Regions from separate parts of the Homo sapiens genome. Here region 1 is linked to region 2. Evidence: fine-mapped QTL for protein levels in blood plasma. A gene starts in region 2. The other region holds a variant in brackets. All regions are shown on one strand. Distances are from middle to middle.

Evidence for each region. PIP is the chance, under the fine-mapping model, that this variant and not a neighbour inherited with it causes the effect. Protein levels are from the aptamer-based SomaScan assay of Sun 2018.
Region 1: its variant is fine-mapped to the plasma level of the TIMP4 protein (Sun 2018, PIP 0.95).

The regions. Positions count from the first base shown.
Region 1 is chr3:12,431,900-12,437,272 of GRCh38, reverse strand. It overlaps PPARG (peroxisome proliferator activated receptor gamma), which reads right to left. Exons shown (of 8, transcript NM_138711.6): 8 at 2,929-3,375. The coding sequence ends at 3,128. Among named protein-coding and RNA genes, the nearest start is that of TSEN2, 50 kb to the left of the region's middle. The variant G/A (reference allele first, on the strand shown) is at 3,215.
Region 2 is chr3:12,156,608-12,161,980 of GRCh38, reverse strand. TIMP4 (TIMP metallopeptidase inhibitor 4) reads left to right here and starts at 3,069. Exons shown (of 5, transcript NM_003256.4): 1 at 3,069-3,279; 2 at 4,499-4,596; 3 at 5,047-5,161. The coding sequence starts at 3,141. It overlaps SYN2 (synapsin II), which reads right to left. Exons shown (of 13, transcript NM_133625.6): 6 at 373-435.

The DNA.
Region 1 (5,373 bases), 280 kb before region 2:
CCCCTTCCCTCTTTGCCCCTCAGTGGAGGTGGTGAAGCTGCCCCTCTGGCTTCCTCTAGTTGGAAATTCGCTATGTGACATCAGCTAGTGCTGCCACCTCTTCCGACCCTGAGCCTCCTAGGCTCCTTGCTCTGCACCCACATTGTAAAAAAGGAGCCAGAAACTCAGGCCAGCCTAATTTCTTATGGCGGCTGGAGAAACAGGGTGTGCAGCTTTGTTTCTTCTGTGTGTCCCCTCTTCGTTCCTGGGCTCCACACACAGCGGGAGGAAGGAAAAGGGAGCCCGTTCCAGGGAGGTGCTGGGGGAGGGCTCTTGTGGGAGCCTGGAAACCCTTTCTTGACTCTTGACCAAAGTTACTTTTCTTCCTATTTTTATTAACACACATCCCTACATGTGTTTGTGTCCAGAGAAAGTACTATGAATAACTGATGACAGATTCGTTAACTTATGATTCATCCTGGGGGAGAGAAAGAGGGAGAAAGGAGCAGGAGCTTTGGAGGCTGAATATAAAGTGTTGTCAAATATTTAGCAAATGATCTTCCAAGCCACAGGGAAAAAGTCAGAGATGGGAATTTGAAAGCTGCCAGGATTTAAAAGCCATTTAATGCTAACCATCAGTGCCAGAGAGCTGAGAGCGTTTCTCTTCCTCCTTCCATTGGCAGCAACAGCTCCGATAATGTGGAAAGGCTTGGATGGGCTGCGGAGCGCTGGTGGGAACTGAGACCAGGCAGCGGGGCTGAAAGACTTTTTGTTCAAGAAAGCTTGTAAATAAGGGAGCGCCTCAGAAGTGGACTCTATCTTGTCTACTGCCTGTACATTCTCTCTTCCAAGAGATCCCTGACCATCAGCTCTCTACACAGAAGACTCTAGCCAGTCATCTGGGTGTTTGAAAATAAGTTTCAAAATATCCTGATGTTTGGCATCAAGGAAGAAAAAAAAAGAGCCATATGACTGACTGAATTTGTCACTTTCCTTCCAAATGTTTTGGTGTTACTTAGACAATGGCTTCAGTCTTTGTCTATCTGTCATCCTAAAGGTTTGAGCTCAGAAAGGTCTCTCCTGAAGGGTTAGGAATCCTACATTTTTAGGGCTGGGGTCAGTACTCACTTCTATAACCTGATTCTTTGGAGATATAGTTATTTTTAAGCAAAAGATGAACAGGTCTTTCTTGATATTTTGGCTTGAAAACCTCAAGTCTGCAGTTATGTCTCCTGAGTGTAAATATCCTAAGGCAAGATAAATTAAGGGAGAAGTGGCAGGGAAATTTAGGTCAGTGGAAATAAGCGTCCCGCACAACAGACACCTCCAGATAGTTTGGTTACACTCGTAAGCTTGTCCAACCTGCCTTATTTTGTTGTTGTTGTTTGGTTTGATTTGGTTTGGTTTAGGCTTTTAGTAGCCTGAAGCCATGGTTTTTAATTTCTGTCCCTAGTGGTAAGTGGAAAAGAGGGATGAGGAAGGGGCTTTATTGGCCCAGTCAGAAACAGAAATGGAGAACCCATGACTCTATTCTCTCCCTTAGACACCCCGTAAGGCATTCTTCAAAGACATAGTATGATGAGTTCATGAGTAGCCAATGCAAGTGAATTTGGTGGATTGAATCAACGAATCTATTCACTGTGCCAAGAATGAATAGATTGTCACGCCTTCAGGGAACTTAGAATCTATCTGCTTGGGAGGCAAGCATTCCATTAATGATGCGGATAGTTAGCCTCTCAGTTCAGAAAAGAGATCTCTGGACAGAGTGGTCCCAAGGAGGAGGACAGGAATAATCACAGCAAAACTGCCTTGCAGAAGGAGAAAACAGAAAGTAGCTCTTCTCCCTCAGTTTTTTTTTTCTTTCATTGTGTTCCTGTTATTTTGCTTCTCTGGAATGTCTTTTCTCCTCCTCTCTACCTATTCCAGTCTAACACTTCCCTGAGGCCCTCTTCAGCAAATCCACAGATTCAGTCTCTGGGATTCCAATCTTCACTCATCTTACTTCCTACAAACTCTTACCATTCACCTGGCATGTGATTTCATCTGCGTATTTGAATCTGTATGAAAAAAGATTAATCTTTTCTCCTCAGTTTATAATCGGTAAATTCTTTTTGGCAGGTGTCAAATCTTTTTTATCTTTTTTTAGAGACAGGGTCTCACTCTGTGGCCCAGGCTGGAATACAGTGGCATCATCACAGCTCACTGCAGCCTCAACTCCCAGGCTCAAGCAATCCTCCCGCCTCAGCCTGCGAGTAGCTGGGACTACAGGTGTGTGCCACCACACATGGCTAATATTTAAAACTGTTGTGGAGACAGGGTCTCGAACAAGAGACCAGCTCAATCGATCCATCCACCTTGGCCTCCTAACGTGCGTGGATTAAAGGCTTGAGACACCATGCCTGGCGCAGATACCAAATCTTAAAAAAGTTCTGTGTTCCCCAGAGTTTCTAGCAGTGCTCAGTTGCTGGCCACTGGCTCTGTGGGTGCGCAGTGGCATTGATTAGTAGGTAGTATACGAGTAGGCTGCTGGTGGTGCGTGAAAATCTCGGTTAGGATTGTGGAAGAAGACTGAATTCTGGGTAATCCCAGGGATATGCTGCATATCAGCACATCCAGGCTACAAAACACATGCTCTGAGCAGTTTCTGATTCTGAAGTTCCCCTTCCCTTCTTAGTTCTGATTGTTAAAGCAGATGCAGAGTTCCGAAAAGTTGTAAATTGAGTAAAAAATTAATTTACTGAGAATGAAAGTGTATCAGCAGTTCCACTCACATATTTTAAAATGTCTAAGAAAGAAAAGAAAAATAAAGGAAGAAGGAAAGGAGGGAAGGGAGGGAGGAAGAGTGAGAGGGATGGAGGGAGGGAGGGGAGAAGGAAAAGGGGTAAAAAAGAAAGCCTGGGGGCTAGGGTGGGAAACACACAAGACTCAGTCTTCAAATACTATCAGCAATTTCATAATATGGTAATTTTTAATATTAAAAGTAAATTGTAAATGTGTCTTTATAAACAATATGCATAAAATAGATCATATTCTAAAACCTTTTCTTTTTAAAATGCTTTTTCACAGTAAATTTCTTAGGTGTCAGATTTTCCCTCAGAATAGTGCAACTGGAAGAAGGGAAATGTTGGCAGTGGCTCAGGACTCTCTGCTAGTACAAGTCCTTGTAGATCTCCTGCAGGAGCGGGTGAAGACTCATGTCTGTCTCCGTCTTCTTGATCACCTGCAGTAGCTGCAC[G/A]TGTTCCGTGACAATCTGTCTGAGGTCTGTCATTTTCTGGAGCAGCTTGGCAAACAGCTGTGAGGACTCAGGGTGGTTCAGCTTCAGCTGGAGCTCCAGGGCTTGTAGCAGGTTGTCTTGAATGTCTTCAATGGGCTTCACATTCAGCAAACCTGGGCGGTCTGGGGAAGCACATATGGAAAACACAACAGGGGGTTCAGTCAAAAAATCCTCTGGGCCCCGCCTTGGAGGCCTAGGCAGCTCTACCAAGCAACTCATCTGTATTTTTGGTTTGTTTTGCTTTGTATCTTAAATAGGTGGGGAGGAAGGGTAAGCAGATAATGGGTAAGAACTAAGGATGGAATCAGAACCAAAATGATCAGAGCTCTTTGCAGGGCCTTTTTCTGGCCAGGATGTAATCTGTGTGGTCAGCTGAGGGAGCATGGCATCAAAACAATCCTGTTCCCCAAATGAAGTTTCCTCTGCTAACGTGTTTCTACTCAGAAATCTCCTTTTCTTTTCTTTTCTTTTTTTTTTTTTTTGAGATGGAGTCTTGCTCTGTCATCCAGGCTGGAGTGCAGTGGCATGACGTCGGCTCACTACAACCTATGCCTCCCGGGATCAAGCTATTCTCCTGCCTCAGCCTCCTGAGTAGCTGGGATGATAGGTGCTCACCACCACGCCTTTCTAATTTTTGTATTTTTAGTAGAGATAGGGTTTCACCATGTTGGCCAGGCTTGTCTCAAACTCCTGACCTCAAGTGATCCACCCGCCTTGGCCTCCCAAAGTGCTGGGATTACAGGCATGAGCCACTGTGCCCAGCCAGAAATCTCCTTTTCAACTTCTGCTCCTTCCTGATGAATCTACGTTTTATAGCTTCTACTCAGTTTCTTATCATAGCTTCAAATATGCTTTTTTCACAAATATGCTTTTAAAAAAAGGTTTGTCTTTTTGCTTAATTTGCTTATGCTATGTTTGCTTAATATGGCATATTTCCAAAGGACAAAACACAGTTTTAAAATACTGATACATTTTAACAGAGGTTTCTTTTCAGTGGTAAGATTGCAAGCAATTTTCACTAGTTCTTCTTTAGATTTTTCTTTAGTTCAATTTGCAAATGGTGAACTTAAATTACTTTTAAGCAGTTTACTTTTTTCTTTATGTAGATCTTGTTAGATTTATTCTCAAATACTTTATAGCTTCTATTGTGAATGGACCCTTCATTTTCATTACATCTAATATATCCCCACTGATGTGCAGAAAACTAATTGATTTTAGTATATTGAAACAATTCCAATTTTCTGAACTTTTATCAGTTCAAATAGCTTTTAATCATGGATTTCTACTTTTTTTGGATAGATAATTATATCAGCAATGGTAGCTTTATTTATTTCTTCTTTTGCAGCATTAACCTTTCTCATTTCCTCTTCTTGCCATAGTGTGTTGGCTAAAACCTCCAATATGGGATTAAATAATAGTAGCAATAGTAGCAATTCTTGTTTTATTCCTAACTTTGAAGGAAATGCTTCTAATGGTTTATCAGCAACTATGATGTTTGCTATAGATTATGGAGAACATGTTTTACTCCTGGCTTTCCAGGGGTTTTACAATTTTAATTTGTTTTAGTCAGGAATGTTGTTGAATTTTTATCAAATACTTTTACATTTTTCTATCTAAAGAGCTATGATATCTGAAGAGTTATGGTTTTATCTTAACCTAGCACAGTGAATTACATTAATAGAGTTCCTTATACTCTTGTACTCACTTGCTAATATTTTATATAGAGTTTTTGTATTTGTAGGTGATACTGGTTTAGAGTTATTTTGGGGGCCATTCTTTGCCTGTTTTAGTAACAATGTTAACTAGCCTTATACACCAAGTTGAGAGGTTTGCCTTCTGTGTCAACGCAGTAATGATCTGTTCCCTGACGGTTTCTTAGAATTTGTTTGCAGAACCATCTGAGCTTGGTGATAAATCTATCACTATCTTTAATTTTTCTTCCATAGCTTTTATCTATTCAGGCTTTCTACTACTTATATGGTAAAGTTTTAGTAATTTATATTGGAATAAAGTTGTAGATGATATTGTCTTAGAATATGAAATGTATTATTTTTATTCACGCTCCTTAACTTAACGCTTTTTTTTTTGTGACAGAGTCTTAATCTGTTGCCCAGTGCAGT
Region 2 (5,373 bases):
GGGAGACACACACATACACACACTGAGAAGTCACAAGGGCCCTGAGCCTCCAAACCCACCAATATGTATCCGATCCAGACACTAATCTGGGTGCCACATCTCCCCAGGAGGCCCCTTCTCCCTAGCTTCCCTTCCCAGAACTCAAGGGCCACACTTGCTGCAAAGGACCCAGAGGACCAAGCAGGTGGCTTGCATTCTGCTTACTGAAAGAGGTCTGGTTGGGTGACACTCATGGCTTTAGAGGTGGCAAATCATCTTCTCTTTGGAAAGAATTCATCAGTGACAGAGGGAGAATAGCAGTTCACAAATGGGCGCTCTGAAAACTGCCCTTCTTGGTTCAACCCTGAAGCACAGCAGGCCTCTCTGCCTCACCTTGCCCATGCCTGAGTGAGCGTGGCCAATCTTCACCACCACAGGGAACGTGGGCAGTGTCAGCTGAAATCAGAAGAGAAATGAATAAACTGTCAGAGTGTGCCCATCTCTCCGTGGAATCCTACACATATTTTTCTTGGGAATACCCTTGGGAGGGTTCTTTAAAGAACTAGTCCAATCTACTTGCTTTACAGATTAAAAAACTGAGACCCATGGAATGACAGTGAGTTCCCAGGGTCACAGAGCATATTAGTGGCAGTGCTACAAGAACCCTGTACTCTTATTTGGTATACCCTACATCTTTAAAATGCACTGTCAATTTTCTCTGCATTAGACAAAACCTGGGCAGGACTGGCCCTCAGACAAAGAGAATTAAAAAAAGAAAGTATCTCTGAAAGAGTGAACTTTACTATATGTAGATGTACTTTAATAAACCTGTATTTTTATTTTAAAAACACATCTTTGGCATCTTGATGTCCCTGTCAGCATGTACCCTCTTGGTACCTACAACCTTCAAAGGCCCAGCTTTCCTGTAATGATCCTGGTTGTTTTCTCCCTCTTTCACACTCTTCACTGCTCACCAATACCCCAATCTCACCACCAAACAAGGCTTTGCATGTGAAGGCCCATTTCTTCCCAGCTTGGGGTTTGAAAGAGAGCCGGTAGAAGAATTCAGTATGTTTATAAATGCAGAGAGATCCTTAGGGGAGCGAACTCTACACTGAGGTAGCCATACTTTAACAGAGGAGCAACAAAACCTTAAAAGAAGGATTATCCTCTAAGGGCAAGATTTCAAGCTGCTACAAAATGGTGATGTAAGAAGTAATATTGTGGAGTGGAAGGAGCACTGGGCTAGATGTCAGGAGACGAGTACTCTAGTCCTCTTCTGCCACGGACTTTCTACAAGTCACTGTATCTCACTGGGCCTCAGCCTTCACATCTGTCCAATGAAGAGATCAGATGGGATGCTTTCTGAGCTCCCTTCAAATAGTACATCAGCCTCTATCTTGGTCTGAACATTGTATGAAGAACCAGCCTGGATGCTAACCCGGGCATTTCATCTTTCAGTCAGACTCAGCTCTCTTTCAATTCCCTTCTTTTCAAATATCACTAACACCATCAAAATGAAAAGGTATCCTTTGAAGGAAATAATGTTGACCCTGATGAAAAGTCAGACTCCTATGGGAACTAAGATTTGAACAGATACTGGGGGTATCTGGCCTGAGGATCTCAGCATTCCTGGTTGAGGCCAGCCAAGGATGGGAAGAAGAACTTCAAAGGGCTTTAGAAATCACGTAGTTCAACTCTACTTTATGAAGAAAAAACTGAGGCCCAGAGAGGCAAAAGTCACAAAGCTACAGTGACAGTCAGAATTGGAACCCAGCCTCCCACTATCCAGTCCAGCACCATGTGGAAACATCCCACAGCAATAATCCCATGGAGATTTGGGATTTGGAGGCTTGCAACACTGTGCCCAAACAGCAGACAAGGCTCTGGTCACAGTCACCCCCAAGTCCCCTGCTTCTTTGTTTTTTCTTTTACTTTTTTTTTTTTTTTTTTTTTTTTGAGACGGAGTCTCACTCTGTCGCCCAGACTGGAGTGCAGTGGCACAGTCTCAGCTCACTTCAACCTCCGCCTCCTGGGTTCAAGCCATTCTCTTGCCTCAGCCTCCTGAGTACCTGGGACTACAGGTGTAGGCCACCACGCCCGGCTAACTTTTGTATTTTTAGTAGGGACGGAGTTTCATCATGATGGCTAGGGTGATCTCGAACTCCTGACCTCAGGTGATCAACCCGCCTTGGCTTCCCAAAGTGCTGAGATTACAGGCGTGAGCCACCACGCCCAGCCTGCTTCTTTGTTTTCTAAGCTGTCCCACCTTCTAGAACATGACAGAGTCTCCAGTGAGAAGGGACATGCAATAAAAATCAATGTAGTCTAGGGCCTCGAGAGGGCTTTGAGGTCCAAGGTTTGCCCTAAGTGATGGGACACTTTGTGTTTTGTACACCAAGAGCGCTGTCTCCAGCTATCTGGAGAGTCTGAGGCTCTGGGAGTGAGAAAGGGTTTCTAAAGCACTGGCTGCTTCTTTGACATCTCTCCCCACCCCCCAGGCAACAGAGCCAAGACACACACACCCCAACTTTCTCTGTCCTGTTCTATTACTGTTTGCTGTTGCTTTGGAGCCTCATAAATAGGGCATTGAAAGCACTTCCTGCAGCTGAAAGAAGCCCTGAGTAGCTCGTCTCATTCCCAGCGTGCAGCTCAGCAAGGGGTCCGTCCTTCTCTGTCACTGTCTCTTTTGCCTGTTGTAATTCTGTCTGCCTCTCTGGGACTCTGCCTGTCTCACTCTTTCTGTCTGTGCCTCTCCTCACTCTTGTTCTTTCTGCCTGAATCACAGCCCTCAGTTTTTCTGTCCTCATGCATTTGTCTTTGTGGCTCTTTCCGTCTTTCTGCCCTTGACACCATCCCCTCTCCCAGTGCTTCCCCTCTGCTTCCAGATCGCTTCATGACTTAGGCAGGGAAACAGAGGTCAGGGCCTCCTTCCAGGCTTCCCTCTGCATCTTACTGAGTATGCAGGTCGGAAGAGCCTCGGGTCCTGCCTCCGCGGGTGGCCTAGAGCCAAAGGAAGGCGGAGCCCGTCGGGGCGGGATTGGCCCTTAGGGCCACCTCATAAAGCCTGGGGCGAGGGGCACAACGGCCTTGGGAAGGAGCCCTGCTGGGGCCGTCCAGTCCCCCAGACCTCACAGGCTCAGTCGCGGATCTGCAGTGTCATGCCTGGGAGCCCTCGGCCCGCGCCAAGCTGGGTGCTGTTGCTGCGGCTGCTGGCGTTGCTGCGGCCCCCGGGGCTGGGTGAGGCATGCAGCTGCGCCCCGGCGCACCCTCAGCAGCACATCTGCCACTCGGCACTTGGTGAGTCCGAGGTCCGCGAGGTCCACAGCAGGGGGTGGTTGTGGGGGATTAGTATCTGGCCAGCAGTACACCAGGAGTCCAGAGGAAAAGGGAGGAGCTCAAATTCTTACCGGTTGTCTCTTGCTGAGGCTGATGGGTGGAGAAGGACCAGGCGCCATAGCAACCTTGCAAGCCCAGAACCTGACTGATTCATAAGGAAATGAAGATTTCATCAGGGACTTCCATAGCGACCTCCCTCACTCCGGCCATACTGCAATTATGGAGTGTCATTACACAAGGTGTCACCGGAGCTATCTGATGATTATTCTGAACTACTAGACTGGGGACAGAAAGGGGAGGGGAGAGGGCTTGCATTGTAACTACCCGTGTCTGTCCAGGCCTATAACTGAGGTTGCCACCAAGCCCCTATGGCAACACACACGTTCTGTCCTTTCTCTTCCCTCTGCCTGGAATGCCCTCCCTCACACCCTTAAATTCCTGGCAGACTCCTACTCATCCTTCAAGGGCTAACTTAGGTCTCTCCCCTTCTCTGCAGGCTCCCGGGCTCCTTGGTGCCGCCTCAGCATCTCTAACCGTCTTAGCGCTCCTACTATGCTGTGCTGTTGTTCTTTACACGTGTGCACTCCACTAGATCAAGAGCTCGGCAGGATGGGGACCCTGTCTTAATCACATCTATGGGCCTAGTGCCTAGTGCAAGGCCAGGCACAGAGGAAGAACATCATCAACAGTTTTTGGTTATTAATGCTCAAATGGCAAGAGATGCAATACCTCAGTGCAGGGTCAGAACATTTATGAATTCAATAAACATTTACTAATATCAACTGTAGGCGGGATGAGAGGCCTTGACCACAGCAATAGATAAACTTCACACCGACTGCCCTGAAGGGGCTCCTCCTCCCTTCTCTACTCTGACTCCTACCCTGTGCCCCACTGCACAAACGGCTATGGAGAACTAGAGCTCTCCAGACTAACTGGTTCAAAAGGCAGAAACAGCTTAGCGGTTATAGGACCTAATAAGCCTGAGGGGTTTGGAACTTCCAGTGACTGCAGGGGAGGTGTTTCCAGGTCCCCCTTCTCACACATCACGTTGCTCACAACCCAGCCACACCAAAACCAAGAACTGCCCTATAGACTTCTTCATGGACCCTGGATCATCCAGACCTCAGGTGTATTGCCCCCACCAGCTGCTGAAGGTTCCCTCTTTTCTCTTCCTATGCAGTGATTCGGGCCAAAATCTCCAGTGAGAAGGTAGTTCCGGCCAGTGCAGACCCTGCTGACACTGAAAAAATGCTCCGGTATGAAATCAAACAGATAAAGGTACATGGGGGCAGGCTGGGATGTGTAGCCCCTAAGGCTGATGGAGAAAGTGGAGTCTGTGTTCTGGGAGGGCTGGTAGCTTTCAGGTGGCCTGGCTCAGTAATCCTTGGGTCTAGATACTGAAGTGGAACTGGATGAGATTTGGAGGCAGAGCCCATAGAATCCCAGGGATATTGCCAGGGAGGGCCTCAGCATCCATCTGGTCCCACAGCTGCTGGTGTATGGTGCCACTACAGGTACCTACTGGAATAAACCAAGGTTTAGGTGTTTTTTGTTGTTGTTGTTTTGTTTTAAGAGAGAAAATAACCCAGTAGGGACATCTGAGGACACAAAATCCTCAACTAGACTTTTGCTTACATTTTTAGGCTGAGAAGTGAGAGGTTTTTGTCTGTTAATATATACAGTACACTCACTGACCCAATATTGCCTTTTTTTGTAATTGCCTGTCAGATGTTCAAAGGGTTTGAGAAAGTCAAGGATGTTCAGTATATCTATACGCCTTTTGACTCTTCCCTCTGTGGTGTGAAACTAGAAGCCAACAGCCAGAAGCAGTATCTCTTGACTGGTAAGTTAAAAGACCAACAACTGGCCTTAATATAATAGATTCTGCCCTAGGGGAGGTAGTGAGAAAGGAGCCAGGGTCTTCCTTGGGCAGTAGGCTGAGCCAGGTGGCATTTTCTTGGGCATAAAACAGAGCTGTGTTAGTGACAGACAACCTCTGGGTTAGGAGGAGCCTTGTAACCTCCCTTTAAATGTAAGAGTTCTTAGTACAGTGAC